Linked DNA regions of Homo sapiens: region 2 is linked to region 1. The links come from fine-mapping of genetic effects on gene expression. Tissue or cell type: whole blood. Region 1 holds a variant in brackets; the other region holds the start of a gene. All regions are shown on one strand. Distances are from middle to middle.

Region 1 (2,757 bases):
TTTTCTCCCCCATCCTATTTAACGAAGAGAGGCTTCCTAGAAGAGGTGAGGAGACTTCTAAAAGGACTGGAACAAAGGGAGAGTCCTGGGCTGAGACAGGAAGGTGGTGAGTTGTTGCAAGATTTGAGACAACAGGGGAGGAAGGGAGGATGGGCCAGGGAGGCCCAAGGGCCTCACACATGCAGAGTCCTGGGCGGCATGGTATCTGGGAAGCCTCTCCAGGCATCTGTCCTTCCCTTTACCACCATTATGCTTTGGATAAAATCCTGAGGGGCCCAGTAAACCACAGGCCCATTCTCCCAGAAATTCTGACCCATTTGTTGAACCATGGGTTCATTTCTTAAACCACATCTCCTGAGCATTTTCCTGGGACTGGGAACACAAAATTGAGTGTGAGAGTCTTTGACAGAAAGCTTCTCTCCATGGAGAAGCTTGGTGTCCAGCAGGAAGGTCGTGGGAAAAGATATTAGCAATGCAACATGGAAAACGTGAACTAGTGGCATGCAGAAAGGGCCAAGGGAGGCCGGGCACAGTGGCTCACACCTATAATCCTAGCACTTTGGGAGGCCGAGGTGGGTGGATCATTTGAGCCCAGGAGTTTGAGCCCAGACTGGGCAACATAGCAAGACCTCATCTTTACAAAAAATTTAAAAATTAGCCTGGTGTGCTGGCAAGTGCCTATGGTCCCAGCTACACAGGAGGCTGAGGTGGGAGGGTTGCTTTAGCTCGGGAGGTCAAGACTACAGTGAACTGTGATTGCACCACTGCACTCCAGACTGGACGACAGAGCAAGGTTGTATCTCCAAAAAAAAAGGCCAAGGGAGCCCCAAGGAAGGAGGACCTCTTCTGGGGAGGGAGAGGATTATAGTCTTACAAAGCTTCTCTAAGGTGTTATGCCAGGTCTTGAAGGATAAAAAGGAGCAATCAGACTGCTACAGAAAGCAAAGGCACCCTAATAAAAAATCAGTCAAAGACACCAAGGTGTAAAAGGGCACAAGTGTGGCTGGAATGCAAAGGGCTGGGCATGGGGCTGGAAAGGTGGGTGGGTCTGGCACCTGAATATCCCTGAGTTCCAGCCCAGGAGTCTGGGCTTTCCCCTGCAGCTGATGGAAACCACTGAAGAATTTGGTGAACACAGCTTCTATTAACAAGAGAAGAGCAAAAGAGGGCAGGAGTTGTGGGAAATAGACCAGGACAAATGGAGCGTGAGTTACCAGCGGGGCCTCCACATACAGAGGTCCAGGAGGTGGATATAAATAAAAGCCTGAGGCCAGAGAGAGGTCCAAGCTAGAGGCGAAGATTATGGAATCTTATCATGAAGGTGAGAGTTGACGCTGGGGCAGAAAAGGGACCACCCCCACCCCCAGGAGGGCACACAGAGATGAGAAGGCCATAGAATGGCATCTGCCACCAACAAGGTCATTCCCTTCCATGGAAAATCCAGCCCCTTGCTAGTCCAGGAGGACTAGCAAGGAGGCATTACCCCCTGTAATTTAGCCTTCTGCAAGGACCTGCTTTACCCACTATCAAATTCTGGCCCAGTTCTGCCTGAGACCAAATTACACCCAGTGTCATCTACTGGACAAGTCTCTACGGTGAAGGAAGTATGGCATCATGGTTGCTTTGTAACTTCCCAAACGTGTCTTCAGAGCTCTGAA[A/G]CAATGAGCAGGGACCTATTTCCGGCCCTAAATCTCTATAAAGGAAAGGGCCATTACCTCTAGAGCATGCTGGGCAGGTGGGGGCAGGGTGCTAGCAAATGTCCCCTTCCCCTCACCCAAGATTTCTACACCTACCTGCAATCATGCTTTAAACTCCCCTCAACAAAGTCACATTTTTACAACCATACAGAAGTTCAAAGGGCTGTTACCCTGGGCTGGTTAAGTCAACAGGTATTTACTGGTGCTGCAACTCCACACTCTTTAAATATCTCTCTGGCTTTCCACCTGTCACCTCTATTTTGATGACTGCCACATCTGCCTGATGAGCAAGCCTCTTAGCTGTTTCAGGTATTTCCAATTGCCAGCAGGACATTTACGATGGAGAGATATAGTAGATCTTTATTGTAACAGCGAAAGTTCTGGTGTCTGAGTGTCTGCGTTTGGAATCCTGTTCCACCTCTTACTAGCTATGACCTTAACTATTCTTCGCCTCATGTTCTTTATCTGTAAACTGATAATATGAAAGTGCAACCTCATGGGGCTGTGATGAAAGAAAAATACTCATGCCTAAATCTCTACAGCAGTGCCTGGCACACAGTAAGCATGCGATGAAAACGAGCTGTAATTATTACCTCCAGTCAGAAGTTCTACTCCCACCTCAGACTCTTATGTCCAAAACAGAGAGTTGGGCCATTAATTCTGGTCCTGTTCCTCTACTAAGAAGCTCTGGGTGGCACTTACTTAACAGACCAGAAAATGAGGCCCACGGTGACAACATGACGTGCTCAAAGTCACAGAGCAAGCTAAGGAGAAAGCTGGGGTCAGGATTCCTCATCCAGGGCCCTTCTGTCACTTCCTATTGTTACTGGGAAGTGTGGAGTCTTCGGTTTTTAGTCCTTCTGGAGGAAAGAATTTGGCTAAGAGACCAATTAGTAAAGTAAGCAAAAGGAAATAAGAGTAAACTCCAAGAGAGGACTGGGCTCTTCCGGCTGGGAGCAGCCCTGATACTTTTGTATTGCAGTTTTTATTATGCCAGACTGTTTCTTTAAGCTCCTGCCTCCATCTTAACACTCCACCTTTTTCTTTGTTTAGTTTTCTG
Region 2 (2,500 bases), 45 kb after region 1:
AGCCTTTCCCCCTTGGGAGATGGGAGGAGTAGTTAAAAATAAGAAGTGTTGGGGGAAATCCTCCTCCTTCCAAGCACAGCTCACACGGCAGAGCCTCCTCAGAGTTGCGGCTGCGGATGCAATGACTTAGCCAGGTTAACGCCGATCCCATGTTTTCCGAAACCTGGCACCTAAGCATCTAACATGGAAGGCCGACTCCCTAAAATCAGTGCAAGAAAAATGATAACAAGTTATATCTGGAGGGACCTCGGGGATTATCTACCCGCTGGATTTAAAGTTGAGGAAGCCGCGGGCAGCAAACAAGGTCTCACAGTTGCTGGTGGCAGAGTAGAGACCACAGACCAAATTGCCTGAGTCTAAACTCAATGTTCTTTCCCCTTAGACTGCCACCCGCACACACACGCACACATGCACACCTTTTTGGAGGCACTGCACAGCAAGCACAGAAGTACGCCACTGAGTCCTGTGTCCCTAAAGTATTTGACTGTCCCTCCGCTGGGGGAAAGGGCAGGCAGAAAACAAGACTCCGTGTGCTGTCGCTGTGCCGCCCCCTGCCTCTCTGACCCGCGCCCGCAGAGAAAGTCTCAAGAGCCGCCCCAGGCTTTCTCCCACGTTCTCCCTTTCTCTGCTGCAGTTGAGTTTCCAGAGCGTGAGCGCGCAGGATGACACCTGGCTGGCTGAGAGCTGCCGGGGAGGCGCTGGCGGGTGCCGAGAGCGCACTGACCCTGACGCGGGGTGCAGCACGGCTGGGAAGCCCCCGGGCCTTTGGCTAAGCGCGCCGGGGGACGGCACAGGGGGGCGACGCGCATCCACCACCTGGTCCGCGCTCTCCCGGCCTCCGGCAGCTCAGGGCGGGCTCGGTTGGGGACCCTAATGGCTGGGTGCCGGCCCTGGGAGAAGGGCACGCGGAGGGCGGAGGGTTGCGCCTCGGCCCCGGCTCGGCCCCAACGCCCTCTCCCTGGCGCGCAGGTTTAGAAACAGGGCGGCCTCTCCGGCCGCCGCCTCGGCGGCTCGGGTCCCCATATATAGTCATATCCACCGTCAACTGGGAGGCCGGCGGCCGGCAGCGAATGGGCGAGCGGCCCCCGCGGGAGGAGCGGGGAGGGGGCACGGGGCGGAGGGAGGAGAGGAGGAAGGGGGGCAGGAGAAAAAAGCTTTTCCAAAAAAGTATTGGCTGTCTTGAGGAATGCGGTCGCCCCCTTGGGAAAGTACATATCTGGGAGAAGCAGGCGGCTCCGCGCTCGCACTCCCGCTCCTCCGCCCGACCGCGCGCTCGCCCCGCCGCTCCTGCTGCAGCCCCAGGGCCCCTCGCCGCCGCCACCATGGACGCCATCAAGAAGAAGATGCAGATGCTGAAGCTCGACAAGGAGAACGCCTTGGATCGAGCTGAGCAGGCGGAGGCCGACAAGAAGGCGGCGGAAGACAGGAGCAAGCAGGTCTGCGCCTCCCCGGCCCTGCGCCCGCGCCCAGAGCGCCGGGACTCGAGCCTGGCACCCCCGGCTGGATCCCCACCCCGAGGACTCGGGGAGCCACCACCCTACCCCCACCACCACCCAGGGCGGCCAGGGCGCGCGTCTGGAAAGAAGGAAGGGAAACGCAAGAGCCAGGCTTAGTCTAACTTAGTCTGGTCTGAGGACGCTTATTTCCCTTCTCTGGTTCCCATGGCCCGCGAAATCAAGTCCTAGAGGCGCTTTATTCTCAGGACTGGGAATCAGTTTGGGGGAGGGAGGAGGACACCCGGTTCCTGGGGACGTTTGAAGGAAGGGCGAGGGATGGAGAAAGGGGGTCGAGTAACTCAAGTGTTAGAAGTTCGTTGACTTTTGACTGGGGAGAAAGGAACCTTAAACTTGGGGAGGAGAAGGGAGTCCTGGAGTTGTTACCTAAGAACAAAGATGGGGCGGAATGGAGGCTACAGCCCGAAAGCCAGGCCAGCAGTGGCGTTCTTCTGTGTCCCCAAGTAGTGGACTTGAGCCCGCTGAGACCTCGGCAGGAGTCTCGTCCCAGGGCAGGTGGGTGTGCGGGGTGAGCCGCGGAGCGGTTCCAGCTCGGGTAAAGAGGAAGTTACCTCGGGTCCTTTGCACTCCAACTCGGCGGCGCCCCGAGCCCGAGGGGCCCCAGCCAACCCGACGCCCGTGTGTTGTGTGTGTCTAACACCCGGTCCGTGCCGGCCGCCCGCGCCCGCCCGCCGCTGCCCCCAGCTCGAGGAGGACATCGCGGCCAAGGAGAAGTTGCTGCGGGTGTCGGAGGACGAGCGGGACCGGGTGCTGGAGGAGCTGCACAAGGCGGAGGACAGCCTCCTGGCCGCCGAAGAGGCCGCCGCCAAGGTACCCGGGGCGCGCGGCACGGCGTGGCGCACGAATGGCTAACTCTTTCTCTTTCTCTCTCTCCCTCCCTGTCTTTCCCTCTGTCTCTCCCGCTGTCCCTGTCCTTCTGGTTCTGTGCACCCACACCCCTCCCCTTCGGGATCACGCTGCCTGCTGCACCCCCCTCCCTCCCTGTA

What was found. PIP is the estimated chance that this variant, and not a neighbour inherited with it, causes the effect.
Region 2: TPM1 starts here. The variant in region 1 is fine-mapped to the expression of TPM1 in whole blood (TOPMed, PIP above 0.99).

The regions. Positions count from the first base shown.
Region 1 is chr15:62,996,513-62,999,269 of GRCh38, forward strand. No RefSeq gene overlaps it. Among named protein-coding and RNA genes, the nearest start is that of TPM1, 45 kb to the right of the region's middle. The variant A/G (reference allele first, on the strand shown) is at 1,659.
Region 2 is chr15:63,041,508-63,044,007 of GRCh38, forward strand. It overlaps TPM1 (tropomyosin 1), which reads left to right and starts at 1,240. Exons shown (of 10, transcript NM_001018005.2): 1 at 1,240-1,436. The coding sequence starts at 1,323. RefSeq lists enhancers at 184-1,098, 2,012-2,500.